Regions from separate parts of the Homo sapiens genome. Here region 1 is linked to region 2. The links come from fine-mapping of genetic effects on gene expression. A gene starts in region 2. The other region holds a variant in brackets. All regions are shown on one strand. Distances are between the middles of the regions. Region 1 holds the start of LOC105375072 (a long non-coding RNA gene). Region 2 holds the start of CAPN11 (calpain 11).

Evidence for each region. PIP is the estimated chance that this variant, and not a neighbour inherited with it, causes the effect.
Region 1: its variant is fine-mapped to the expression of CAPN11 in sun-exposed skin (GTEx, PIP 0.98). The same link has a PIP of 0.9 or more in whole blood.

What each region holds. Positions count from the first base shown.
Region 1 is chr6:44,178,391-44,194,193 of GRCh38, reverse strand. It overlaps CAPN11 (calpain 11), which reads right to left. Exons shown (of 23, transcript NM_007058.4): 13 at 14,564-14,575; 14 at 14,031-14,242; 15 at 13,695-13,734; 16 at 13,532-13,597; 17 at 13,389-13,446; 18 at 13,197-13,261; 19 at 12,874-12,942; 20 at 11,175-11,253; 21 at 10,959-11,075; 22 at 10,431-10,489; 23 at 9,793-10,288. The coding sequence ends at 10,262. It overlaps LOC105375072 (a long non-coding RNA gene), which reads right to left and starts at 8,211. Exons shown (of 3, transcript XR_926835.2): 1 at 8,136-8,211; 2 at 7,314-7,386; 3 at 4,253-4,485. It also overlaps a transcript of MYMX not described here. The variant A/T (reference allele first, on the strand shown) is at 9,136.
Region 2 is chr6:44,153,495-44,167,057 of GRCh38, reverse strand. It overlaps CAPN11 (calpain 11), which reads right to left and starts at 8,238. Exons shown (of 23, transcript NM_007058.4): 1 at 8,194-8,238; 2 at 229-300. The coding sequence starts at 8,209. TMEM63B (transmembrane protein 63B) reads right to left here. Exons shown (of 24, transcript NM_018426.3): 21 at 13,215-13,382; 22 at 12,870-12,985; 23 at 12,613-12,693; 24 at 11,539-12,366. The coding sequence ends at 12,175. It overlaps LOC107986599 (a long non-coding RNA gene), which reads left to right and starts at 8,455. Exons shown (of 3, transcript XR_002956350.2): 1 at 8,455-8,473; 2 at 11,726-11,857; 3 at 13,081-13,220. RefSeq lists enhancers at 1-320, 6,892-7,061 and a silencer at 5,419-5,508.

The DNA of each region.
Region 1 (15,803 bases), 26 kb before region 2:
CCATACCAATTATGACAACAGATGTCGTTAAACTTCTCTGTGTTTAGTTCACCTGATGAGTATTCTAGTTGGATCTGATAACATATATATCAAAGAACAGAAAATATTGGAATAGTTCTTTTTAAAGAGCTGCTACATTTTGAACATATCTCCAAGAAAGTGGGTACCTGCACAAAACTCTACCTATGGAAATTACTTTTTTTTTTTTGGAGACGGAGTTTTGCTCTTGTCTCCCAGGCTGGAGTGCAAGGGCACGATCTCAGTTCACGGCAGCCTCTGCCTCCTGGGTTCAAGTGATTCTCTTGCCTCAGCCTTCCGAGTAGCTGGGATTACAGGTGTGTGCCACCACGCCCGGCTAACTTTGTATTTTTAGTAGAGACAGGTTTTCACCATGTTTTGGCCAGACCAGTCTCGAACTCCTGACCTCAGGTGATCCACCAGCCTTGGCCTCCCAAAGTGCTGGGATTACAGGCATGAGTCACCGCGCCTGGCCAGAAATTACTGTTAGAGTTAGAATCATGCTAGAAGAGAGCGGCTGTGTGATTGGATTCATTTTAGGTGGAGAGGGCAGCTCTGAGACCAAATAATAGGAATAGTATTATTTCATAGAAAGACAATATGGGGTGATAGTTAAGCAAATGGACTGTGGAGCTATGCTGCCCACGTGCAAATCCCAGCTCCTCTACTGCCAGTGTGGAATCTTAGGCAAATAAGTCATTAGCCATTCTGTGCCTCAGTTCACTTTTCTGTGAAATGGAGCCAATTTGTTAGGATTAAGGGCATAATACAGGTTGAATGTTAGAATGGTACCTGGTATAGAAAACATGTCAGGTGCAGTGGCTCACACCTGTAATCCCAGCACTTTGGGATTACACCCAGCCTGGGTGACAGAGCGAGACTCTATATGGAAAAAAAAAGAAAAAGAAAACATAACAATGTAAATATTCAATGACTAGTAGCACTCTTTGTTATATCCCAGAGCTCATATTCATTTATCCTATTATTATTTACAAGTATATGGTTCAATTGGCCCTTATAATTTTCCCCTGAGTGTTCTCTTCCTTGACAGATGAGTAAACTGAAGTTCAGAGAGGGCCTCGGTGACAGAAAAGGGTGGTAGGAAGACAGTCAAGGTAAAAAAGTTTGTGCATCAGACCTGGGAGGGTTCCAATTCCAGCTGGGGCACTTTGGCCCTTAAGAGGCATCCTGGATGGAGAGCTTTGAAGTTCAAAATAGGAAGCGGTCACGTTAGCTGGGACCGCCATTGGTTGCTTTAGTCAACACACTCTTGTGCAGGCTCTCGAAGTACATCAGAGAAAAAGACAGTCCTGCTCTCAAGATATGGTCAGTAGGAGAGGCAGGAGGAAACAGGAAATTACAAGACAGAAAAAGAAATGGCCTGCACCTTAGGAGTCCAGGACACTTGGCCAATGTGTGAAAAGTGAGAGCTGGCTTCCTGGAGGGTGGAGCTTTAACCCGAGGCCTGGAGGAGTGGCCAGAGAGAGAGGAGGGCTTCCAAGAAGAAAAGAGGGGGTGTCCTGGGAATGAAGAATGGGTAGAATGTGACAAACAGCCCCTCTATCCATGCTGTAGGGAGGGGGTTAGGGTTCAGGTGAGGAAGAATAGGAGCAGACGGGAGCCAGACAGTGGGGTGAATTCAGGAAATGCTTAGCGGACCTGAGGCGTCAGCCAGCCACAATGCTCAGGCGAGTCCTGGACGTCCTTCCTGGCTGTGTCACTTACAGAAACAGGGAAACCAGGACCCTTTTGGTGGATGAGGTGATGATCCAGGTTCCCAACAGGATTCTGAAGCCCTGTGAAACCTAGCGTTTGACGTCTCTGGAGGGAGTGGATGGGGGGCAAGAGAAAAGTGGGTGGGGGAAGGGGGGTCAAGGAGAGAATGAAGCTGTTGTGGGGATGAGCAGGATGGGAACTTGGAGATTCCCACGTCAGCACCTCACTCACCTTCCTTGGAAGACAGAATAAGCCCAGAGAGCTGTCCAACAGGTAGGAAAGTGCAGTTACAGACTCCCACAGGGATGGAGTCAGTTTAAGACAATTATTTTGAAATTACTTTGTAAATAAACACACACACACACACACACACACACGCAAGCGCGCACACACACAGAGGCACTGATAAAGAGCAAGAAGAGGCCGGGTGCGGTGGCTCACACCTGTAATCCCAGCACTTTGGGAGGCTGAGGTGGGCAGATCACCTGAGGTCAGGAGTTCAAGACCAGCCTGGCCAACATGGAGAAACCCTGTCTCTACTAAAAAATGCAAAAATTAGCCGGGCATGGTGGCACGTGCCTGTAATACCAGCTACTCGGGAGGCTGAGATAGGAGAATCGCTTGAACCCAGGAGACAAAGGCTGCAGTGAGCCAAGATCCCGCAACTACATTCCAGCCTAGGAGACAGAGTGAGACTCTGTCTCAAAAAAAAAAAAATTATAAGAAAAAACAAAAACGGGCTGCGCACAGTGGCTCACGCCTGTAATCCCAGCACTTTGGGAGGCTGGGGGGAGCTGATCACCTGAGGTCAGGAGTTCGAGACCAGGCTGGCCAAGGTGGTGAAACCCCATCTCTACTAAAAATATAAAAGCCAGCCAGGCGTGGTGGTGGGCACCTGTAATCCCAGCTACTTGGGAGGCTGAGGCAGGAGAATCGCTTGAACATGGGAGGCAGAGGTTGCAGTGAGCCTAGATCACACTATTGCACTCCAGCTTGGGCAACAGGAGCAAAACTTTGTCTCGAAAAAGAAAAAGAAAAAGAAAAAGAAAAAAAATGTCCAGTACAAAAATGGGCAAGGACAAGAGGCTCAGGCAGGAGGATCACTTGAGCCCAGGCGTTCCAGGCTATAGTGCCTGATGATCCCCCCTGTAAATAGCTGCCATACTCCAGCCTGGCAACATAGTGAGACCTTTAAAAAAAAATGTATATATATATATATAAAATATGTAACTCTATATTCTTTGGGAACATATATATAACATATATGTTACATATAATATATGTATTTAATATATAACATATGTTATATATACACATATATATGTAACATATATACCATGTTATATATAACATATATTTCATATATATAACATATATGTTCCCAAAGAATATAAAGAGATAGTTCATAGAAAATAAAATGCAAGCAAAAGCAAAAAATGAACAGTTGCTCAATCTCATTTGCTGTAAGAGAAATGCAAATTATGGCTATGCTGAGATACCATTTTTCTTCTACCAGATTAGAAATATGTAAAAACTTGCCCACACACGGTGTTTATGAGTCTGTAGGGGAAAACGGCAGTCTCTTATCTTGCTTGTGGGAGTACAAATTAGTATTACCCTTATAGAGGGGAATTTCCTTTTTTTCAGAATTACTGATATACATACTCTTTAGCCCAATAATCCTACTTTTAGAAATTTATTGTATAAAAATATTTTACTGGGATAAAATAACATGTATAGTGTTATTTATTGCAGCACTATTTATAATAATGAAAGATTGGAAAAAACTGTCAACAAAGAACTGCTAAATAACGAGACTTTAATCCAGTGCAATACTATACAGCTATAAAAAAAATAAGGAAGATCTCGGCCAGGCACGGTGGCTTATGCCTGTAATCCTAGCACTTTGGGAGGCCGAGGCGAGCAGATCACTTGAGGTCAGGAGTTCAAGACCATTCCTGGCCAGCATGGTGAAACCCCGTCTCTACCAAAAATATAAAAAATTAGCCGGGCATGGTGGCGGGTGCCTGTAATCCCAGCTACTCGGGAGGCTGAGGCAGGATAATCGCTTGAACCCGGGAGGTGGAGGTTGCAGTGAACCGAGATGGCGCCATTGCACTCCAGCCTGGGCAACAAGAGCAAAACTCCAACTCAAAAAAAAAAAAAAAAAAGGAAGCTCTCTATATACTAATAGAAAAATATCTCCAAGATATATATTTTAAAATTGCTTTTAAAAATAAGCTAGCTATTGGGCTAGGCACAGTTGCTCATGCCTGTAATCTCAATACTTCGGGAGGTCAAGGCAAGAAGATCATTTGAGCCCAGGAGTTCGAGACCAGCCTGGGCAACACAGTGAGACTGTCTTTACAAAAAATTAAAAAAAAAAAAAAGCTGGCCATGTTGGCGTGCACCCATAGTCCCAGCTACATGGCAGAGTGAGGCAGAAAGATCACCTGAGCCCAGGAGTTCAAGGCTGCAGTGAGCCATGATTGTACCACTGCACTGCAGCCTGGGCGACAGAGGGAGACCCTGTACCTAAACAAAACAAACAAAAAGCAACCACAAAAAAACAAAAGAAGCTAATGAGCTCATCCTGCTTTACTTTTTCTTCACTCAGCATCTTCTCAGGCTCTACAGCTGTGGCTGGGTGGCATCTAGTCTGCTGCTTCTGTTGCATGGCATTCCATGGTTTTCAAGCACATTTGGGACCCAATTTTCTCAGAGACCAGAGGATGAAGCTGCGAAGATATTCTGAGGGAGAAGAGAAGTGGGGTTGAGGCTGTTTCTCTGATGTAGCCTCATTCTTTGCAGTAAAAATGAAGGCTGTAGTGAGAGGTCTGGGGGAAATCAGGGCAGTGGGTGTGGAGAATGGCAGTCAGTCATCAGGAGAAGAAATCTAGCTTGCCACGTGGCCTCCATCGAGGTCAACCAGCATGAATCAGGAGGATGCAGGCAGCATGGTTTAGTGCCCATTCCCAGCAAAACTCAGCCACCTGGTTTTATGAGCAGAGGACTAAAAGGGACTAGAAAGTATGGGCTGCCTGCCTGTGGTTACAGGTCCCTTGGAGACAGCAAGGACATAGTGGGAATGGCCTCCCAGGGCACTAAGGCTGAGCTGGGATGGAGTTGCAGTGAAGTTGGATGGAAATGGAGCCTGAAGGGACTAGAAGAATGGTGTGCCTCATTTTCCAAATTTTAAATAACATTGTATATAGCCATTGCTAATAATATTTAATGCAAGCAAATGGTAAACACTAATGTCAAGGACTATTGTAAATCTAATATGCATCTTGCTTATTCAACTGTATGTCATAACCCTCATGCCATTTGTGTTATTTAGTTCAATGGCTTGATATTTTATCGTGTGTAACATCTAATGTGTATTTATTTATTTATTTTTGAGACAGAATCTCCCTCTGTTGCCCAGGCTGGAATGCAGTGGTTTGATCAGAGTTCTCTGCAGCCTTGAACTCCTGGGCTCAAGCAATTTTCCTGCCTCAGCCTCCCGAGTAACTAGGACTATAGGCATGACCCACACCACTCCTGGCTATAACATGTTCACAATTGAAAATTTGTTTTTTTTATTTTTTTACTATTATAGATAATATCAAAGTTTTTTTAAAAAAGAATGATATGCCTAAGTGCTTCACTTTCATTATCGCAGTTGTCCATACAACAGCCCTCTGAGATAGGAATTGTCACCTCTAATTGACAGATTCAAAAGGATACTCTGTTAGAAAGGTAAAATAATTTGCCCAAAGACACATAGCTCGTGAATCTTCACCTTAAGCCACTATGCAAATTGTTGGGAAAAGAAAATAACTTTTATTTGGTGAGGTGGCAGGTGCCTGTAATCCAGCTTCTTGGGAGACTGAGGCCTGGGAATCGCTTGAACCTGGGAGGCGGAGGTTGCAGTGAGCTGAGATCGCGCCACTGAACTCCAGCCTGGGCGACAGAGAGAGACTCTGTCTCAAAAAAATAAAAATAAATAAAATAAAAATAACTTTTATCTGAGGAATGCAAATCCTTTTAATTATCAGACCCAGAGAGACAGTAACATGACACACAATTGCACCCTATACCCTGCACTCCCCTTTAAGTTATGTATTCATCTCTTGAAACTGCTTGCTACTTCTACAGGTAGCTATAAATTATCCTAATAATGGGACACCAGACACTATAGCCAATAACTAATCAATGTTATTTCTGAAAACCGGTGAGAATTCCTAACAAATAACTTTGTATCATTCCACTCACTGTCCTCCTTTTTTACCTTTCTTTTCTTTTCTTTTTTGTTTTTTGAGACGGAGTCTCACGCTCTCACCCTGGCTGGAGTACAATGGCGCAATCTTGGCTCACTGCAACCTCCATCTCCCGGGTTCAAGCAATTCTCCTGCCTCAGCCTCCCAAGTAGCTGGGATTACAGGTGCCCACCACCACACCTGGCTAATTTTTTGTATTTTTAGTAGAGACGGGGTTTCGCCATGTTGGGCAGGTTAGAACTCCTGACCTCGTGATCGGCCTGCCTCGGCCTCCCAAGGTGCTGGGATTACAGGCGTGAGCCACTATGCCCAGCCCTTTTTTACCTTTAAAAATGCATTTTGGGCCGGGCACAGTGGCTCATGACTTTAATCTCAGCACTTTGGGAGGCTCGGGGGGGTGGGCGGTGGGGCAGATTACTTGAGGTCAGTAGTTTGAGGCTAACCTGGCCAACATGGTGAAACCCTGTGTCTACTAAAAATACAAAAATTAGCCATGCATGGTGATGTGCACCTGTAGTCCCAGCTACTCAGGAGGCTGAGGCAGGAGGATCACCTGAGCCCGGGAGGCAGAGGTTATAGTAAGCCAAAACTGTGCCACTGCACTCCAGCCGGGTGACAAAGAGAGGCCCTGACACACACACACACACACACACACACACACCCCAAAACAAAACAAAACAAAAACCTTTTTGTTTTTTGAGACAAGGCCTCGCTCCGTCACCCAGGCAGGAGTGCATTGGCATGATCACATTTCACTGCAGCCTCGACCTCCTGGACTCAAGTGATCCTCCCACTTCAGCTCCCCACACAGCTGGGACCACATGTGTGCGCCACCAGTCCTGGCTAACTTTTTCTTTTCTTTTTTTGAGATAGTCTCACTCTGTCACCCAGGCTGGAGTGCAGTGGCACAATCTCAGCTCACTGCAACCTCCGCCTCCCGGGTTCAAGCGATTCTTATGCCTCAGCCTCCCGAGTAGCTGTGACTACAGCCGTGTGCCACCACGCCTGGCTATTTTTTGTATTTTTAGTAGAGATGGGGTTTCACCATGTTGGCCAGGCTGGTCTTGAATTTCTGGCCTCAAGTGATCTGCCCACCTCAGCCTCACAAAGTGCTGGGGTTATAGGTGTGAGCCACTGTACCCAGCCTAAAAATCCACTTGTAACTGCTGCTAATCGGGATGTATATTCAGAATAATTTGAATCTATTCTCCAGGGTTACAATCCTTAAGTTTAGCCCAAATAAACTCTCTACTTATGTGAAGTTTGCTTCATTTTATGTTTACAGAGTGTTCGTGAGTAACCAGCTTTGTTACAAACCGGAAGGGATAGTCCTGATTTGAGAGTTTTCTGCTTCCTTTCCATCCTGGCTTGAAGTTGGCAGCATTTCACCCTAGGCCATGGAACAAGAGGTGGGGTCAGCATCTTCCTAGGGTTCCCAGAACCAATCCGGACTGCCCGGGACCTCTCAGAGTCTCAAAGGACCTGCTAGGTTTTTGTTTTTAAAAGATGGAGTCCCCGTGTTGCCCAGGCTGGTCTCAAACTCCTCAGCCTCCCGAGTAGCTGGGATTACAGGCATGTGCCACCATGCCCAGCATGGACCTGTTAGCTTGAGGCTCTCACTGACCTCTCCCTGCTCTCTCTGGGGACTTTTGCTCATCACTCAGAGAAGCTCTGTGGAGAGCAGGTGGTGGCTGCCATCTCTTAGAGAGAGAGGGAGGACGACAAGTGGGAGAACAGTCTTTCAAAGAGGCTCCAAAGAGAGTGTGACCTATTCTTTCAGGCAGGACTGGAGACGGAGAGGAAGCAGGGAGGGCTGACAGGACAGGAAACGATTCCTCTGAAGGCGGCGTGGGGTGGTGATAATGGAGGGAAGGCGGCTTTATATCCAGGCAGACTAGCTTTAGTCTTTGAAGTCACAAAGAAGGCAGGGGCCAGGGCTGGTGCAGACAATCAGTCACCAGATTAAGGAAGATCAGAATCCCACCTGCCTCACTAAGCACACAAGGGCTGGGTTTAGTGCACGTGGAAGGAAGCTAGCGACCCCAGGAAGCTGCACAGGTACACAGAGACAGGAAGGGTTTAGCTTCATTGGGGATGACAGATCTCTAATCTAGGGGAAGTTGGGGGTGCTGTCTCTACCTGAGAGGCTGAGAAGCGCATGTGCTTGGGCTCCAGTGTCCCTGCCAGAAACCAGAAGGGGAGGCTGTGGAGGGCTCTGGAAGGACAGGAGGAGAAGTACAGTTTAGGGGCTGCTGTGAGTGGCCTGGGTGTTCTCACTACTGCAGGGGGCTGGGGCTGGAGTTGGGGTGTGGGCACCTGGGACAGAGACCCCGAGGTCAAAAACAGGTGGACCCAGAAATAAGTGTTTCTTCCATGCCTCCTGCAAGGACAGTAGCTTGACAAGCAACAAATTTCTTTTTTTTTTTTAATTTTCTTTTTAATTCTCAGCAAGGCAAGTTACTTCTATATAGAAGCGTGCGCCCTTATAGATGGAACAATGGTGAGCACACATTTGGACAAGGGAGGGGAAGGGGTTCTTATCCCTGATGCACGTGGCCCCTGCTGCTGTGTCGTTCCCCTATTGGCTAGGGTTAGACCGCACAGGCTAAACTAATTCTGATTGACTAATTTAAAGAGACTGACAGGGTGAGTGCTTTGGTGGGAGTCAGGGCAGAGCAGGTAGCAGGTGATTGGAATAAATTAGGGTGGAGCAGGTGATCGGAATGAGTCAGGGTGGAATAGGTAATTGAAAAGGTTGCTTTACGAGGAAGTGAAGTTTAAAAATAGAAGGCAAAGAATTGAACATACTGACATATTAATTCTTTGAAAAGAAATTTAGAACTCATATCTAACAATCCCTCCCCTTGTATTTCCTTACAGCTTTCTTTTCATACTTTTTTTTTTTTTAACATGTCTTGACTTAGTTGCTTTGCTTGATTTTCTAAAAGAAGAAGCTTCTCTGGATAAGGTGGAGGATAGTTAAGGGAGGTTTTAGTAAGTGGACAGGCAACAAATTTCTAACAATAATAATAATGATTTGAATCTGAACACCTTTAAGGCAGGAACGAGTTCACCTATTGCCACAGTCCTCAGCCTTCCCAGTCCCACACGAGGAGGATTTGTTCATTTATTTATTTAA[A/T]TTGTTTTTGAGACAGAGTCTTGCTCTGTCACCCAGGCTGGAGTGAAGTGGTATGATCTTGTCTCACTGCAACCTCCACCCCCCAGGTTCAAGCAGTTCTCCTGCCTCAGCCTCCCAAGTAGCTGGGATTATAGGCGCGTGCCACTACGGCCAGCTAAGTTTTGTATTTTTAGCAGAGACGGAGTTTTGCCATGTTGGCCAGGGTGGTCTCAAACTCCTGACCTCAGGTGATCCACCTGCGTTGGCCTCCCAGAGTGCTGGGATTACAGGCGTGAGCCACCGCGCCCGGCAGTTCGTTCATTTATGTGACCTGCTGGCTGCAGGTGTCAGATTTTTAACCTTCGAGGCTCCTGCAGTGCCACCTTTGGGGACCCCAGTTTGAAGCAGCAGATGAGAGTCCTGGAGCCCTGGCTCAGCCCCCGTAGAAGCGCTCCACCATAGGGCACACCACACAGTTCTTCACAGGGAGGGACTTGTGTGCTTAGCATCTGGCACTGCCCATAAACGCCAACTATGGCCTCTAGTTATTGTGACAACTGCACATTTCTATATGCTCCCTATCACCCTTGGCTGAGAGCTACCCAATCCTTTGGTCCTGGGTAAGTGACTTCCACCCTTGCCAGTCTTTTCTTGGCATAAAAACACAGAGACATGGAAGCCAATGGCATGTGCTATTTATTAGAATAGTATCCACAGATGGGGAGGAAAACAGAGGCTGTGCCAGGATGGGTGGTCAGCAGGTAGGTGTGAGCAGGACAGCAAGCATGGAGGGTAAGAAACGGGCTACAAGTCCCTTCCCTATTCTTGGCCTCCCCAGCCAGGGGGACCCTGGGGAAGCATCAACTACTCTTTAGTAAAATATACTCTGAGAGAGCGATGGTGGGGGAAAGCCAGCCATCAGAAGCCGGGTTGGGGAAAAAAGAGAAAGCCTCTGAGCTGGGGGAGTGGGCACGGAGGTCCCACTGCTGCAGTAAACACGGCACCTGGGACCCGGGCACTGCCACCTGGAGCCCATTTCATCAGCAGAGACCGGAGAGCTGAGGGCTACAAGAAGCACCCCACCCTCCTGGGCTAGAACCTCGCTGCTGCTGCTGCTGGTAGAGATGACCAGGCTCCTACAGCGCCTCTATCCCCACATGGTCATCTGCAGCCACTGTGGAGACAGGAAGCAGATCCCAGGGTGGGAAGAGACGGGGGCAGGATGCTGGCCCGGGGACATCAGAGCTGGGTGGGGGTGGGGTTGAGGGGCAGGCAGGTGCAATCCTGCAGATTCCTTCCCACCCTTCTCCAAGTACCTGTTCCAGGCTCAAGCAAATATGGCCAGTATTCTTGGGGTCCATGGTTAGAAAGAATGCTGCGTTACAGAGGAAGCGGGGGAGAGGGGCTGAATGCTAAGTCAGTGTTCCGAAAGAACCACTCCCAACTAGGTAGGAAGGGGCGACACCAGGTGTTCCTGGCTGTTCCCCACATAAATCCCCTAGCCAAGTGGGGAATTAATGATAGCAACTCACATAGCCTCACCAGGAGCCAGGCCCAGTTCTGATTGCCTTCCATAGACTAACTGGTTTAACCTGCACCTCAGTCCTTTGAGGGCAGTACTATTATTATCCACATTCTAAAGAGGAGGGAATGGAGGCACAGAAAGATTAAGTGACTTGCTCAAGTCACCTCTGCCAGCAAGTGGCGGAGCTGGGCTTTGAATCCATTTCATGTGTGCCTTGTAAGGGGGAGGGGATCTGGAGCAGCACCCATCAGGGTGGGTGTTTGGGAAAGGGCCCGCGGCCCCTGGCCTAGGCTGGGGAGTGGGTAGATGCCTAACTCACTGAACATGGTCTTTAGCCTCAGGAAACAGCTGATGAAGCTGTCAAAGTCTATGATCAGGTCATCATCTGCATACCTGGCCACCAGGACCTGCATTACCTTGTTGTTCAGCTTGATGCCTGAGAGAGGGAGAGAGAAGTGGGGAGGGGAAAAGTCTGGGCCTCTGGACACTGCCATCCTCTTCCCTGCCCCAAGGCCCACTCCTGACCCTTGGCCACCTGCTTTCTCAATAACCAGGCGCATCTCATAGGAGTTCAAGGTGCCTGAATGGTCCTGGTCACACTCTCTGAAGATGTCCTGAAGAGACAGACAGATATGGTAGGGCCACATGCATGGCATGGTGGTTGAAATAATGAAATACTGAGGCCGGGCGCGGTGGCTCATGCCTGTAATCCCAGCACTTTGAAAGGCCGAGGCAGGCGGATCATCTGAGGTCAGGAGTTTGAGACCAGCCTGGCCAACATGACGAAACCCCGTCTCTAATAAAACTACAAAAATTAGCTGGGTGTGGTGGTGCATGCCTGTAATCCCAGCTAGTCAGGAGGCTGAGGCAGGAGGCGGAGGTTACAGTAAGCAGAGATCGCACCACTGCACTCCAGCCTGGGCAACAGAGTGAGATTCCGTCTCAAAAAAAAGAAAAAGAAATACTTTAGGACAGTTGGCTCACAGCAGTGGCCTAAGACCCCATGCCCCCCTCCAACCCTGGCCCACTCCTGATATTCCTATCATCTGGTGACCTAAGGGTTAATTCCAAGCATGGGTTGTCGGGGGCACTGGTGCCCTGCCCAGCGCTCTTTGTGTGCATCCTTCATGACTAGATGATACCTGAGCTATACTTGTTATAAAATATTTTGACTGGGTAATATGCCACACTCCAACAGACCCTTTTCATGTGTGTGTGTGGTGTGGTTGTGTCTGTATGTGAGTGTGTGTGTGTGTGTGTGTGTGTGTGGTGTGGTTGTGTCTGTATGTGTGTGTGTGTGTGGTGTGGTTGTGTCTGTATGTGAGTGTGTATGTGTGTGTGTGAGTGTGGTGTGGTTGTGTCTGTATGTGAGTGTGTATGTGTGTGTGAGTGTGGTGTGGTTGTGTCTGTATGTGAGTGTGTATGTGTGTGTGTGTGTGGTGTGGTTGTGTCTGTATGTGAGTGTGTATGTGTGTGTGTGTGTGGTGTGGTTGTGTCTGTATGTGTGTGTGTGGTGTGGTTGTGTCTGTATGTGAGTGTGTATGTGTGTGTGTGAGTGTGGTGTGGTTGTGTCTGTATGTGAGTGTGTATGTGTGTGTGTGAGTGTGGTGTGGTTGTGTCTGTATGTGAGTGTGTATGTGTGTGTGAGTGTGGTGTGGTTGTGTCTGTATGTGAGTGTGTATGTGTGTGTGTGGTGTGGTTGTGTCTGTATGTGAGTGTGTGTGTGTGTGGTGTGGTTGTGTCTGTATGTGAGTGTGTATGTGTGTGTGTGGTGTGGTTGTGTCTGTATGTGAGTGTGTATGTGTGTGTGTGAGTGTGGTGTGGTTGTGTCTGTGAGTGTGTGTGTGTGTGAGTGTGGTGTGGTTGTGTCTGTATGTGAGTATGTGTGTGTGAGTGTGGTGTGGTTGTGTCTGTATGTGAGTGTGTATGTGTGTGTGTGAGTGTGGTGTGGTTGTGTCTGTATGTGAGTGTGTATGTGTGGTGTGGTTGTGTCTGTATGTGAGTGTGTGTGTGTGTGAGTGTGGTGTGGTTGTGTCTGTATGTGAGTGTGTGTGTGTGTGTGTGGTGTGGTTGTGTCTGTATGTGAGTGTGTGTGTGTGTGTGTGAGTGTGGTGTGGTTGGGTGTGTGTGTGTGTGTGGTTAGGGCTTGGGTTCTAGCTTCCCCTCATTAGTTCCATCTCTCCTAAGACCCTCTTTTCCTCACCCCTGGAGGCTGCCCCTTTAGTGCCCTTTACCATCCATTTCTTGAGTTTTTTCCACAGGATCTTGAACTCTAGAAGCCCCAGCTTGCCAGAGCCATCTTTCTGGAAGGTGGTCAAGGACAGCAGAGAAGGAGTGAAGAAGGCATCCCAGGGGATAGGGAAGCAGCGGGGGTTCCTGAGGGGACACACAAGCCCTGGGGTTCCGGTACTGTAGCAGCCAGAAGAACTGGCATCTTCTGCTACCCCAGAGCCTAATCCCCATCAGGGAGGAGGACGTGGCTGGCCCAGGGTGGCCATCTCTGGGCCAGGCTTGTGGGCAGGGGACAGGGCCAAGAGAGCACTGGACAGGAGGATACATCCATGAGGTTGATCATGCAGCGGCAAGCATCCAGGCCAAAGCCCTTGGTCTTGAAGCTTTTGACTGTGAGGAAGGGAAGGGGTAGAAAGGAGAGACAGGGTAAATGAGGTATCGTGGGGGCACTGGGAGTGATCAAGAGGGGCACAAAATATGGGGGAGGGGTCGTGTGCAGCAGGAGTGGAAGACTCACATTTGATGGCCATCCTGTTGAGCAGCCTCTGGAGCTCATACACCCCTATCTCCTTGCCCTAGGAAGGGGAACTGTGAACCCCACTCGGGCCCCTCCAGCCCCTCATCCCCCTCCTGTCAGCCCTCCGCTCGTGGCCTGCTCACCTCTCCTGCCACTATCTTAAACAAATGTAGGAAGTCCTGGTCCATGTCATCCTCAGAGACCTTTTCCTGGGGGCCGGGGAGCAGGAAAGGGACCTGGTCAGAAAACTTCTTTCACAGGCCCAGGAGCTTCCTTCCAACCCCCAGCCCTACAGTCTCCCCTCACCTCTTGGAGTTGCTCAGCATAGTTGACTTCATCCAATTCCCTGGGCAAAATGATTGAAAGCTCAAGAGTTACCAGGGGGAGGGAGGTGGGGGTTTTAGTGGGGTGCTCTGGGGGTCATGTCATGTCTTTGAAGCAATATAGGGCAGCTCCATGGAATATGGGTTCTAGTTCTAGTTCTGGTTCTGCCACTAACTGGGACTTCACCTTCTCATGCCTCAGTTTCCCTGACTGTAAAATAGGGACAAAGTGAGGGAGGACCCGACAGCAGCTCCCTGAGCTTGATATCCTGCAGCTCTTGGGTGGCGGGCCTTGGAGCAGTGAGCTGCAGCCCCTTACCATGACTCGCTGTGCTTCTCGGTGAAGACCCGAAGCAGGAAGTCAGCATCTCTGTGTGGCTCAAAGGTGGAGGGAATAATGATATATTCCCCCGGAGGCAGCCGGAGTTGGCTGCTCACCTCCCGTGAGTTGGTGAAGATCTCTGAGAAGCCGTGGTCCTGATACTTCGTGAAGAATTCCTTCTTCAAGTGGACATCCTGAATGTTCTGAAACTATATGCATCCTGGAAGTGGGTACAGGACTGGCATGGGAGGTTAGGGAGGGAGGGTCCCCCAGGGTGAACAGCCTGGCCGGGCAGGGTTGGAGGTAGGTGCCACCACCAACTGACCTGGCCTGGACACCATCTAAGTGGCCCGCAACTCCAACAGGGTCTCTTCCTTTCCCGACCCCTACCAGCCCTGAAGAGGGCTGGAATCCTAACCCAGTGACCCCCAGAGCCTCTCGCCAAATTCCACCCTTTGCCAATCCACTTGCAGCCAGGGGTGGAGTGGGTATGTGTCCAGGAACAAGCCCCACATCTTTATCTTCTGTACCTCTTTTGGGACCTGGGAAGGGAAGAAAGAGGAGAGTCAGATCTCTAGGGTGGTGAAGGGCCTCAGGCCTTCAGAAGCCAAGTGGGATGTGTATAGTGTGTGTCTGTGTGTGTGTGTTGTTGGAGGGGTATTAAGGGCACTGGGATACTGGTGGTGGAGTGGGGCACGGGCTCTGACAGTTCAAAGGTCCTGGCATTAACAATCCCTCTGCTGCAGAGGTGGGAGGATTGCTTGAGCTGGAGGTCAAGGCTGCAGTGAGTCACGATCATGTCACTGCCCTCCAGCCTGGGCAATAGAGTGAGACCCTGTCTCAAAAAAAAAAAAAAAATTCCTTCAGCTTTGGATAGGAAAGTACAGTTTATGCAAGGTAGATTTTTATCATTCCAGGTTAAGGGAAGGAAACAGAATCCCAAAGATGTGAGGTGATTTGTCCAACCTCAGATGGCTGAAAAGTGAAAGAGTTAGGATAAAAATCTAGGACAGTGTTTTGCTTTTCCGTGGAACACTCATATCCTGCAGGAAGTGAATAGAAGATTACTAAAATTGAGGATCGAGGACAAATAAGTTTGTAAAAATGTGAGTTAAACCAAGTTAAACAGGTTGCTCTATTGCAGAGGTGGCTTATCAGCACCTCAGTGTGCTTGTGTGCACCGGAGAGCTCAGGCTGCAGTAGTCTTTCCTGAGCTTTTTTAACCTTGAAGATGTCTTTGAGACAGGGTCTCACTCTGCGCCCAGGCTGAAGAGCAGTGGTGCGATCATGGCTTGCCGCAGCTTCGACCTCCTGAGCTCAAGTGATCCTCTCACCTCAGCTTCTCGAGTAGCTGGGACCACAGGTGTGTGCCACCATGCCCGGCTAATTTTTTTTTTTTTTTTTTTTTTTAATCGAGACAGGGTCTTGCTGTGTTGCCCAGGCTGGTGTTAAATTCTTTGGGCATCCTCCAAGTGATCCTCCCACCTCGGCCTCTCAAAGTGCTGGGATAATAGGCATGAGCCACCTCCCCCAGCAAAAATGTTATCCTGAGGCACCAGTCTGTTAGCCTGGTGGACTAATGGCCCTAAGAGTAGGGCAAGGCTTGTGTCTGTTTTGCTCACTATTGAACCCCTGGAGACTGGACAGGGGCCTGGCACACAGTAGATGCTCCATAAATACTTGCTTATATAAGGGAATGCAAGTGAATGAACAACATTCTTTTGGAGAATGTGGAGAATTTTGCAAAGCATGGTTTGGCTTGGGAAATGC
Region 2 (13,563 bases):
GGGCCTGCCAGGCGGCTTGGGACTCTGGACATCCTGCCCACACCTCCGCCCCCAGGGGGACTGCAAACTGCCAACATCCCTTCCTGAGGGTAGCCTCCCCTCCCCCCGCCGCCCTCCCCACACAACATGACTGACTTCCCCCACCAGCAGGCCCAGGGGAAGAGAAGAGAGTGAAGGAGGAGGAAGAAAAAGGGAGGCCACAGAGCCACGACGGGTCTGCAGTCCTACCCGCACATGAGCCCCGAGGCTTATCCTCCTGTGATCCATCCAGGCTCTCTGCTGACTCCGGAAGACTCGGCCCTAGAATAAGAAAGAGTGGGAGGAGGGGAGGAAGGCTGTGGTCTAAAGTTAAACAGAGCCCAGCTGGGGCTGGGGTGTAGGAAGATTTTAGAATGAGGAAAAGAACTGGGTTGGGGCGCAGCTACAGGGAGGGCAGCAGGGTTCTGGGGTTGTTTAGAGGTGAGACCCTGCTTGAGCCCACAGAAGGGTGAGTCCCCCAGAAGCAAGAGCAGGAGGTCTCAGTTAGTCCTCCTCCCCTGAGTGACAGAATCAAGAGACTAGTTATAACAGCAGAGCTGACAGCACTGAGCACCTTCTCTGTGCCAGGCACGCCAGCCCTACAAGGGGGTACCTGCAATACCCTGATTACTGGGAAAGGGAGCAGAGGCCCAGAGGCTAAGCAGCTTGCCCGAGGTCACAGAGTGAGGGTTGGGCGCGGGGTGAAATCCGTACTGCAGACCCTGGACCAAGCTAGCAACCTTCACTCTATGCTGAGCCTCCTGAAGGGAAGTGTTTCTCCTCAGCCTGAAGGCTGGCAGAACCTGCCCCATCTCTGTTAACAAAGGCATCGACAGATGATTCATTGCTGAACTTATCCCCCTTCCTCTTGCCACTGCCCCAAGCAAACCCCTTCTCCTGTTCCACACGAGTACCTCCTTGGGATTTCCTCAGGTCCTATAATGAACCCCTGTTCTCCTGGTCCCCCAAGATCCCAACACACCGCATCCCACATCAAAACAGTCATGGAGTCCTTCACAAGGGCATCCCCTCCTAGGACCCTAATTTCTCATTGCTACCATCACTGTCCGAGGCCAGGGCCTTCAGACAACCCCCAGACCTCAAATGGCCTCTTGTCTCCTGAAGACCCTCTCCAATTCATCACATATGCTCCCCCGACCACATACCACACCAACTCCCTTTGAGTGAGGTTTTGAACCCTTTACTGCTTCTGGAAACTTTCAGGACATCGCTTTGCCAGCAGGATAAGGCCAGCCCCCAGAGCCCCCTCCAGCCCTGGGCCCACTACTCCCAGTACAGACCCATCCCTTTGACCCCTCTTGAGTGTTCCAGACTTGGGGAGACCCTGTCTGTCCAAGCAGCTTTCCTGAGCTCTGTGCCCCAGGAGAGACAGTCCCTCCAGCAGTCTCCTCAACCTCATCCTCCCCTTCCCTCCACCTAGCCAGTGAGCTGGGGATCTTCCCAGACCCTGTCACTATGTCCCTTGCATTGTCTACTGCACCCTCTTAGCATCTCTCCTGTCCTCCTCCACACAGCCCGCGATAGGGGCTGCCCCTGTGCAGAGCCACATCCAGTGCAGTAAGCAAGGACTGGAAGCCAAGCATCCCCTCACAGGGAGGCCTCCCAAAACATCACTTTATCTCCCCATGCCTTGGCTTCTCCACCTGTGAGATGGGTGATATTCTAAAGTGTTTGCATTTGTTTCTGACACAAAACTCACTCAATAAATTAACCTTAAATAGCAAAAATCTAGGCCAAAAGAATGATTCCCCAACTGGCCCCTTTCTTCTAACATCCTCCTCCCCCACTAGTTCTCCACAGTGTTAGCTGAGATTTTGAAAATGCAAACCTGGGGCAGCATGGTGGCTCACCTCTGTAATCTCAGCACTTTTGGAGGCTGAGGCAGGTGGATCACTTAAGGCTAGGAGTTCAAGACCAGCCTGGCCAACATGGTGAAACCTCGTGTCTACTAAAAATACAAAAATTAGCCAGGTGTGGTGGTGCACACCTGTGGTCCCAGCTACTCCTGTGGCTGAGGCAGGAGGTGGCTTGAACCTGGGAGGTGGAGGTTGCAGTGAGTTGAGAGAGCACCACTGCACCCCAGCCTGGGTGGCAGAGAGTAAGACTGTGTCTCAAAAATAAATAAATAAATAAATAAAACATAACATAAAATAAAATGCAAACCTGATTATACATACCGCTCCCCCTCCCCAGTACTTTAGATGTCTCTCCCTTGTTAGCATGACAAACCCAAACCAGGCTTCCACCTGCCATCTGGCCCCACGACTTTCTGCACAGGTTACCCTCATTCCTCTTCCCATCCTTGTGCCTCTGCCTGCAATCATTCCTGATCCCATGCTCACACTGGGTCCACCGGGGAAAAGTCCTGTTCAGCCTCCCAGTGCCTGCTTGATGCTGCCTCCTCTGTGAAGCCTCCCCTGTGGTGTCCGCGCAGAACTTGGGGCTGCGCTAGCATCCTACACTTTTGTTAGGACACCCATCACTACCTGCCTTCCCTGAGTTGACCTGTCTGCCTCCTCTGTGAGGCTGTGAGCTCTCAAGAGGAGAGGGTGAGGCCACCTTGTATACTACTGAGTTTCAAAATGCTGGCTCAATAATGCTTGCAATGAATGAACAGATGCCTTGCTTGGTATTGTGGTTAATTGTTCATAGATGTTTTCTCTCTTCCACCCCTCCCCTACTCCCTATCCTGCAGCAACCCCAATATACTATATATTTTGTTTATTGTTTACCTCCCTCATGAGTGAAAGCCTGTGAGGGCAGGGATTTTTGTCTGTTTTGTTTGCTGCTGTATTCCTGCTGCTGTATTGAGTACATAGTAAGTGTTCAACATAGATACACTTTTTTGAGACAGAGTCTCACCCTGTTCCCCAGGCTGCAGTGCAGTGGCACAGTTATGGCTCACTGCAACCTCAAACTCCTGAGCTCAAGCAATCCTCCCTCCTCAGCCTCACGAGACCAGCAAGGGGAACATGGTGAGACCCCTGTGTCTACAAAATAAAAATTAAAAAAAATTAACTGGGCATGGTAGCATGTGCCTGTGGTCCCAGCTCCTTGGGAGGCTGAGGTGGGAGGATCACTTCAGGCTGGGAATTGGAAGCTGCAGTGAGCCATAATCCTTCCACTGCACTCTAGCCTGGGTGACAAAGTGAGACCCCCCATCTCAAAAACAAACAAACAAAAAATAATAAGGTTGAGGAGACTCAGGATCCTGAATTTTGCTTCTCCACAGAGCCTGTAACTTGTGATGAGAAGATATTAGGAATCCTGCCTCAGTTATGAGTAGTGAGCACTTATATAGCATTTCTAAAAATAATAATAGTTAGCAGCGTTTGAGGGCTCACTACATGTCTGGCACTATTCTAAACACCCGATGTGCATTAGCTGATTGAATCATCCCAACAACCCCACTGGTTAGGCTTACTCTTATAACTTCCCTGCTATAGACAGAGAAACTGAGGCAGAGAGAGGCTGAAATTCCTCAGACTCGGTGGGCATTAGAGTCAGGGCAGGCTGCTCTATGCTCTCAGCCATCAGGCTCGCTGCCTTGCTGGGAGGTCGCCATGGTGAGGAGCCATGGCTGTGCTGGAGAGGGATGAGTGAGTCAACTGGCCTTGGTGCGGCCCCTTCGTCCATTGTACTGCAACTTGTGTGTGGTCTTTGTGAAGTCACTTCCCCTGTGTGGAGCAGCTGACAGGGGGTGTTGAGGATGGATAAAGGTGTTGGAAAAGGGGTGGCTTGTCCCTTTTTAGCAGAGCTAATGCCCTGGGCTGCACTGGAGCCAGAGAATTAGCTGTGTGACCTTGGGCAAGTTGTTTGACCTCCCTGAGCCTTGGTTTCCTCACCTGTGTATAGAGGCTGCTGCATTCTACCTGCGAGGGTGTTTCAGGATTGAAGAATGCAACGTGTGAAAAAGACTGGAGTTTAGCAGGTGCTCAGAAAACGTTACTCACCTTCTCCCCACTGACCTAGTTGGTCAACTGGTATTTGTTGAGCTCCTTCTAGGATCACATGGCCCATGCTCTGTGTCACATATGTGTCCCTCCATCATAGGATTTAATGATACTAGTGATATTACTCCAATATTGGAGTCATGTGTGTGCTTGTCTGTCTTTGCCACTGGTTTGAGCTCCTGAGAGCAAACCCTAACTCGTGTTAGGCATGTTTTATGGAGAATTTATTCTGGGCTGGTACTGAGGGGTCAAAGTGAATGCACCCCCAACATGGAGCGTGGAGAAGACCCTCCCATGCGATTCCTCCCCCAGGTTCAGCTCCATGGGCCGCAAAGACAGGAGAAAGTGCCATGAAAAGGGGCCACCAGGTTGATGGGATCATCAGGGAGGTTCTGTGGGGGAATGACTATCCCCCTTTCCCTATTCTAAGCACATCCCATTCCCCTGAGGGTGGGGTGCACTTTGACGTCCTGGTTCTGGAAGCATCAGGGCTGGGAAGCAGGGAAGAGGGTGGGTAGAGCCAGAGTCTGGGAGTTCTCCTCGCTCTTTTCTCCCTCCATTTTCCTCAAACCCTGTCTCTTCTAACCCAAGCCCTCTGGGATTATCTTAGAAATGGTAATGGAAGCTCCCTCACCCCCTCGGGCTATGATTACAGGTGTGTGTGTGTGTGTGTGTGTGTGTGTGTGTGTGTGTGTGTCTTTATTCAAAGAGACTGTGAGGGGGGCTGCGGGGGCGGGGTTAAACAGTGGAGCCCCTTTCAGATGAAGAGGGTTCCGAGGGAAGGGTGGAAAGCAGTCCTGAGAGGGGAGAGCTGAACACCTTCTGTTTCAGCCCCTGATCCCTATCTGTGAAGCTGGCGGATCAGGATGACTATTCCCATCTGAGCTGGGTGGAAGCCAGGGCCTCCACAGAGAGATTGAGTCAGAAGTTCTCAACCCGGGGTGATTACGGCCCCCAGGGAACAGGTGGCAACGTCTAGAGGCAGTGTTGGTTGTCATAACTGGGGCAGGTCTCAGGGGAGCTACTGGCATCTAGTAAGTAGAGGCCAGGGATGCTGCTGGGCGCCCCTCAGTGTAGAGGAAAGTCTCCACAATAAAGAATTTTCCAGTTCAAAATGTCAAGAGAGCTGGGGTTGACAAACCTGGGTTGAGCGAATCATCTAAGGTCATTCACACGATAAGGCAAACCACTCCATGCCCTTGCACCGTGCAGTCACTCCAGGCAGCCTCTACCCTGGCTGCTCCGAGGACTGAGGGTGTTGAGCTCTCCTGGGGGCCTGGAAGGACCAGGGAAGATGCTGTTGTTTGAGAAGACTGAAAGAACATCAGAGGGCAGGCCAAGGCAATTCAGGTTCCATCTTAACTCCCTTGTCTCATTTCCCCAGAGCCCTCTGTCCCCTAGTCACCATCCAGCCCAACAAGTCATTTCTCACTGTCTGGCCCCCAAACCCTGCTTCGAAGCTGCATACCCAGTCCCCAGGGTGTGAGGTCATTACTCAGCTCTGACTTGCAGGAAGGACTGACACACCTATCCACACCACCACAGTTGTCATGGAAAATGTCTTTAAGTTGGGCACTGTGGCTCACGCCTGTAATCCCAGCACTTTGAGAGGCTGAGGTGGGCGGATCACCTGAAGTCAGGAGTTCAAGACCCGCCTGGCCAACATGGTGAAACCCCGTCTCTACTAAGAACACAAAAATGAGTTGGGTGTGGTAGCACATGCCTGTAGTCCCAGCTATTCAGGAGGCTGAGGCAGGAGAATCGCTTGAACCCGGGAGGTGGAGGTTGCAGTGAGCCAAGGTTGGGCCACTGCACTCCAGCCTGGGCAATAGAGTGAGACTCCACCTCAAAACAAACAAACAAACAAAAACACCAAAAAAAAAAAAAACCCAAAAGAAAATATCCCCTTAGAGAGGGCAAAAGATCCAAGCTGTCACATGGGCTAGGAGCGTGAGAAGGCTGAGACAGACAGACCAAGGCTGCCTGTGGGAAGCACAGACAGATGGCCAGAGCAACACAGTAGCTCCCCTTAACCCTAGGGGTACGTTCCAACACCCCCAGTGGACACCTGAAACTGCGGGTGGTACCAAACCCTGTATATATCAATACTATGTCTTTCCTTTATGTACATACCTATGATAAAGTTTAGTTTATAAATTAGGCACAGTAAGCAGTTAACCATAATAAGTAATAAAATATAACAAATACAACAATACAATAACAGTAATGTGAATGTGGTCTCTCTGTCTCAAAATATCCTGATGTTTTCAGACTGCAGTTGACAGCGGGTAACTGAAACTGCGTGGAAAGCAGGGGCTGCTGCATGTTAAAAGGCATGAATGGACAGGAAGCTTTCTGCTGCAGCTGCACATCCTGTCTCCTCCATCAGACTGAGAACCTACAGATCATTTTGTTGTTGTTGTTGTTGTTGTTTTTTGAGGTTTTTTTTGAGGCGGAGTCTCACTCTGTCGCCCAGGCTGGAGTGCAGTGGAGCGATCTTGGCTCACTGCAAGCTCCACCTTCTGGGTTCACGCTATTCTCCTGCCTCAGCCTCCCGAGTAGCTGGGACTACAGGCGCCCGCCACCACGCCTGGCTTATTTTTTGTATTTTTAGTAGAGACAGGGTTTCACCGCGTTAGCCAAGATGGTCCCGATCTCCTGACTTCGTGATCTGCCCGCCACGGCCTCCCAAAGTGCTGGGATTACAGGCGTGAGCCACTGCGCCCGGCCAGATCGTTTTTAACTAAATCAGTTTTATTTTATTGACAAAAAAAGTATATATCTGTTGTATACGACATGGTGTTTTGAAATATGTATTCACTGTGGAATGGCTCAGTTGAGCTAATTAATATCTGCATTACTGCACATACTTGTTATTTGTTTGTGGTGAGAACACTTAAAATCTACTGTCAGTGATTTTCTTTTTTTTTTGAGATGGAGTCTCGCTGTGTCGCCCAGGCTTGGGGTGCGGTGGCACGATCTCGGCTCACTGCAACCTCCACTTGCTGGGTTCAAGAGATTCTCCTGCCTCAGCCTCCCGAGTAGCTGGGATTACAGGCGCCCGCCACCACGCATGGCTAATTTTTGTATTTTAGTAGAGACACGGTTTCACTATGTTGGCCAGGCTGGTCTCGAACTCCTGACCTCAGATGATCCACCTGCCTTGGCCTCCCAGAGTGCTAGGATTACAGGCGTGAACCACTGTGCCTGGCCTCTCTCAGTGATTTTCTAAATGCAATACATTGTTATTAGGGGACTATAGATTTAAGGACAGTTTGATTTCCGGCACTGGGAAAAAACTAAGATGTTGTGTCAGGGAACTTTAAAAAAAAATAAATACTAATAAGTAATAATAATAAATAAATAAATTATATTTTGAGATGAGGTCTTGCTATGCTGACCAGGCTGGTCTTGAACTCCTGGGCTCAGGGCACTTCTGAAGAACAAGGACTGGGTTTGGGGTCACCAGCTAGGCCTAAACTTCCTAGGGTCAGGTAAACAGGGAGGGCCTGAGAAGCTGGGAGGCTGGGTCTAGGGGCCCATGGTCTCACGGTGCCCCAGGCTGAGGGTGAGGTACAGGGCTGACCTTCTGCTGGCCAAGGCTGGCTGCCCTCTGTGCACCCTAGCCCCACAGGAACAACTCAGTTCTGCCCAGCCCTCCCCTTCCCCCCAGCCCACTCTCCCCCATCTCCTGGAGTCTGGTCCCAGGCTTGCCTCAGGTAGTCCTGCCCCTGCCACCCTGAGGATCTCATCTTCCTGGGCTGAGGGACCTGCTTTTCTAGGCTTAGGAGAGGTTCTCTCTGTTCCCTAAAGTTTTCTTCTCTACGTGGGCTTTTTCACACAAACCCTTTTCCCCAGCAGCCATGACAGTGGGATGGCCGGCCCCTCTCCTCTCCCCAACTCCAACTGTCAGTGGAGAGGAGAAAGAGTTCCTGCCCGGCCTACCACCCAGTCTGACCACCAGTGGCCTATCCTTCCCCAAACAGTCTGAGAACGAGGCCCAGGTCCTGTCCTTAGGGAGCATCCAGTCTGATGGAAGAGTCACTCTCTGTACCCTCAAGGGGCATCCAGTCTGATGGAAGAGTCACTCTCTGTACCCTCAAGGGGCACCCAGTCTGATGCGGGACACAGCTCCTCCCCTGGGGGGAGGCTCTAGCCTGCAGGAGGTACAGGAGTGGGGCAAGGCCCCATGAGTGCCTACCTGGGGAGTACAGCATGCTGGTGGCTAGCTCGGTGCTTGACAGTTGAAGGTTCTGGTGGGAGGGGGAGAAGAGACCCTCCCCCCAGAACTCTCTCATTGCAGTGGGATTCCTAGGTCAGCAGCCGGTTTAACAGCTGCCTTCCCTTTTCTCCTTCTCAGTAACCCAGCCCCTTACCCAGCTGAGGGCTACCCGCTTTAGGGACAGATGACCCAGCACCCCTGCCTTGCACAGCCTCCACCAGCCTGGCTGTCCTCACTGTATCACGGTCATCCCATCAGGGTAGGTCCCAGTCCCTTTTTTTCAGCCCAAGGTTTCCAGGAAGGGGTTGTCCCTGACACACCAACCTGACCTTTACATCCAGAAAGCCTTCTCATTCCCAAAAGCCCCTTTCTCACTGACATGGCATTTTTCCTGTGTTGCTGTCTTCACATGGCACCCTCCTCTGTGTCTCTTCTTCTTATAAGGACACCAGTCATATGGGGCTAGGGTCCCATGCATTTCAGTATGACCTCATCTTAATTGAACGAATTACATCTGCAACCACCCTGTTTCCAAATGAGGTCACATTCTGAAGTACTGGGGGCCAGGACTTCAACATGCCTTTTTGGGGGACACGATTCCACCTGCAACACTCTCCTTGCCTAGCCCCAGTCTGGCAAGGTTAGGCCACTGGTCTGACCACATGTCCTGCCTCTGCACTGGAAAGTGGGAATGCTTTGAGCTAAGAACTCTGCTCCAGAGTGCAGTCTTCTCTGGAGTGTATGATGGCTGAGGACAGGGACTGTCAAGGTCATCCCAGTGCCCCTCAGCCCTGCCTGGTGCTAATCAGGCACAGAACAGGTGTGAGAGCACCCAATGGGATCAGAGAACCTTGTTCCAAGCTCTGAAACAGGAGCTGACCTTGGGCGAGCCCTCCCCCTTTCTCCTTTCTGGGACTCAATCTCCTCATCTACGAGAATATTAATTATGGTTTGTTATTATGTGCCAAACACTGGGCTAAGAACTTCCTACTTATTTAATCCTTAAAACAGCCAGAGGCCATGACATTGCTATTCCCATTTTATAGATGAGGAAAGTGAGGTCTAGAGGTATGATGCAACTTGCCCAGGGTCACACAGCTGTTAAGCGGTCGAGCCAGGATTTAAACTAATAACTTCAGATTTTTTTTTTTTTTTTTTTTTTTGAGATGGAGTCTCGCTCTTTTGCCCAGGCTGGAGTGAAGTGGTGCAATCTCAGCTCACTGCAACCTCTGCCCCCCGGGTTCAAGCGATTCTCCTGCCTCAGCCTCTCAAGTAGCTGGGATTACAGGTGCCCACCACCATGCCCAGCTAATTTTTGTATTTTTAGTAGAGACGGGGTTTCGCCATGTTGGGCAGGCTGGTCTCGAACTCCTGACCTCAGGTGATCACTCGCTTCGGCCTCCCAAAGCGCTAGGATTATAGGCATAAGCCACCGTGCCCGGCCATAACTTTAGCTCTTATCCGTATCTTCTGCTGCCCCCAGCTGTGAAAGGAGGAAGTGGTCTTTGGGGATCCTGTGGTCTCCCCTGCCCACTCCTGATTCCACTATTGCACCTCTTGGATGCCTCTAATGTGATCTGCCTGGACATGAACTCTGTGACGAGGTGCCAGGGGTAGGGTGCAGGCAGGCACGGGTGTTCCTCTCTATTACAGCCTCCCACCCTGGGGGAGGGCTGTCCTCAGGACTCTTGCTCAGTGTGCTGCTTGGGCATTATCTGGAGTTTCACATTTGGAAATGCTGGAACCTGGCTTTGAACTTCAGGCCCTGCAGGAAAGGGAAGGCATGCTGGGCAGATGAGGAATGAGAGGGTCTCGGCTAACCAGAGGTGGGGGCTGAGGTCTGTCCAGGCCATGCTTTGCAGACAAGGGGGCTTGCCAGGCAAATGGCGGTGGTGTGCCTGCCCATCCATACGGAAAACAGGCTTCGGGAGCACCGAGAAGCCTTCACACAACCAAGGTGCTCCTTTCAAAGCCATGCCAATATTTGTCCAACCACCAGCAGGCACTCCCTTGGCCCCAAGACTTTGGGGACTCTACCTGGGAGCTCATGTTTCACAACTGCAGATCTGACATACATATGCAGGCTGAGGCCAGGACCAAGGCCTCAACTTTCACCTCCACTGTCACTGGCCCATCCTCCACCCACAGCCCGCCCATAAACACTGACCCTCCAAGCTGTGTTTGCCGCAGCTCCCTGCAGCCTGGGGCTGGACCTTGGGCGCTCTTTGCTCCTGCTCCTTGCTGGCGCCTGGGCAATCTTTATCAGGCTTGCTGTGTTTGCTGTTCCTGCTGTTGGTGGTTCCTGTTGACTTTTGTGGAACCTGGTTCTCCTCCTCCTCTGAGGTCTCTTTTCTTCCCTCTAAGAGTTCCTTTTTCTTCCTTTTCTTCAGGGTTGCAAAGTGATTTAGTGACAGAATAAGGACTGGAATGCAGGCCTCCTACAGTACATGCAGTACATGCTGTGTGTGCATGTGTGTGGGTGTGCACCACATGGCTCTGTGGGCCTTTGCAGGGTGGGCTACAGCAGTCACAGGACCTTTTTTCGAGGTGATTTTTTTTTGTTTTTTTTTGAGACAGGGTCTTGCCCTGTCGCCCAGGCTGGAGTGCAGTGGCATGATCTCAGCTCACTGCAGCCTCCACCTCCCAGGTTCAAGTGATTCTCATGCCTCAGCCTCCCAAGTAGCTGGGATTACAGGGGTGCACCACCATGCCCAGCTAATTTCTGTATTTTTTGTAGAGATGGGGTTTCATCATGTTGGCCAGGCTGGTCTCGAACTCCTGAACTCAAGTGATCCACCCACCTTGGCCTCCCAAAGTACTGGGATTACAGGCGTGAGCCACCGCGCCTGGCGAGAAGGTGAATTTGAGCTGGGTCTTGGAGAATGGGTAAGATTTGACTGGAGGGTGGGAGGGGGCTTCTCATTGAGGAGATCAGGCCCTCCTGGGGAAGGGACAGATGGGCTGGCGCCAGGCTTACTTTGAGGTGCTCAGAAGGGCCTTCGTCCTGGCCCAGCATGGACCCTGTGGCTTTGCACGACCTTTTCTCCCTGAATCTCTGTCCCATGTGTGTTGCTCAGGGACTCAGGGGAATGATCAGAGTGGGCGAGGCTGGTATGGTGGCCACCTGGGCACAGGGGCCCTTCCTGCCTCTGAGATATCCCTTAAGTCTCTCCCCAGCCCCACTCTCTCCTCTCAGTGACACAGAAATGAGACTCTGAACAAGTCCCTTGCCCAGCGTCATGCAGGGACCTCAAAGAGGCCCTCCAGATAGGAGGGTGGGGACCCGGCCCAGGTGCCCAGGGCAGCACAAGTCAGACACCTGCCTCAGAGCTTTTCTTTGTTTTTATTTTAAAGGAAAAAAACAAAAAAGAACAAAAAAACCAAAAAAAAAACAGTGCAAAAACCCATTTTCCAGTGTCAGCCTTGCCCACCCCCACCCCCAGGCCACCCCAGCTGTGAGCCTGACTCTTCCTCCCACTCAGCACCCCCTCCCCCCTCATGCATCCCCTAGGGGCTGGAGGCTCCACTTCCCTGGAGGGCCAGATCCCAGGAGGAACTGTGGGGTGGAAAAAACGGAGGGGGGGGAACAGCCCCAGATCCACCTGCCCCCCAGGTCTCCAGCCACCGGCACCAGGTGCACCAGGTACTCCTCTTGGCTCTCATTAACCCTCTCCTGGTCATGCTACTAGCTGGGGAGGGGTGGGGGGTACTGATCTGGGGGAACTCCCTCTGCACCCCTCTTTGCCCCGGGGCCGGCTCGGGGCTCTCCTCACTGAGGTTGGGGGGCTCCCTCCCTCCATCATGGGGGAGAGCAGTGAAACCCCCAAGTTTAAATACCTTAATGAAAGCAGGGGCTGGGGAGGAAGGGGCTTTAGATCTAATAAATTATTAGCGTTTTAGTGTCCGTGGGAGTGGGGGTGGGGTGGGGCAGGATGTGGCCTCCAGGGCCCCTCCCTCCCCTTACTGGTGAATCTCATTCTCTATGAGGCTGTCCTCGCAAGACTGGAAGTCTGTGTCCGTGAGGGCGTCGGGTGGCATCAGCAACTCCTCATCTTGGGATGAGGATGATGGGGGCTCATCCCCTGAGCTCCCAGGAGCCCCATCCCCATCCCCGTCCACCTCTGAGTCCTGCAGCACCTGAGCGATGTATTTCTGAAGGAGGAGAGGAAATGGGGGCAAGGTGAACAGCTGCCCCTCATGGATTGCGGGAACACCAGGGCATGTAGGACAGCAGAGTGGGCAGGGCCCTGGGGGGCGGGGGCAGCCCTCCAGGGAGACCAGCTCTCTTCCCGCCCCCATGGGGTCTGGCACAGGTTCCCCTTTCTGCAGGACTAAGGGAACACTGGGCTTTGAGGCTGAGTCTGTCAGAGGCCCCTCCCAACCCTTGAGGGCACTCACCGCAGATTTGGGGACAGCAGCAGCAGTGGGGGGCCGTCCATTGCTTCTGGGGTCCACAGTATCTGTCTCCGTGTGCTCAATCTTGAGGGGCCCAGAATGAGTCAGGAAGTGGGGGCATGTCCTCAGCCCTGATCATGACCCCACGCCCGCTTGGCCCTGTTGGCGCTGCCCTCAGCCCTCGCCAGCCCTGTGGCCCTCTGCATTCCTCCCCTTGAGCTCCTGCCCGCAGCCATCCGCCTGCCACCCTTGCCCCACACCTTGTAGTTGTGGGCACTGAGGTATTTGAAGTGTCCAAAGCAGACGTGGCAGAGACAGATGACGATGGTGATGACCAGGACCACAAATGTGAACATAGACGTGGGAGCTAGGAACCCTGGTGTTGGGGGGCAAAGAATGGGGTTGCTATCTCCTGTGGGCCTCCCCACCCCAGCTTCTGATACCCTCTGAATGCAGTCCTCACTCTCCCAGGTGCTACAGACTGGCCCCAGCCTCTCCCAGGCCCCTTGCCTGCCACCCCCAGCCATGCGGCTTCTCCTGTGGCCTGCTCTGGCTGGAATCCACTCTGCTCGCCACCCCCCGTTCCCTGGGTAGGGATCCCTCACCCGTGCGCATGGTGGAAAAGAAGAGCAGCCAGAAGAGGCAGAGGATGGGCGCGGCCACCACCTGGTTCACAGCCCCCGAGTGGATCTTCTTGTCCAGCTTGGCCGGCAGGTAGGCGTAGTAGAGATTGTACCTGTCTACCAGGTGCTTCAGCAGCATGTACATGAGCCCTAAGGGAAGCCACATGGGCCCTGACCTCGGAACCAGTGCTGCCGAACCTTTTGTGTGTCTGTCACAGGTTGTTCTGGTCCTGAGAGTGCTGAAGGGTTGGCCCCCTCCTCCTGCCCGGGCCCCAGGACGGGATAGTGCCCCGTGCCCCAGCGTGATCACAGAACTTCAGCTTCCTCCGCT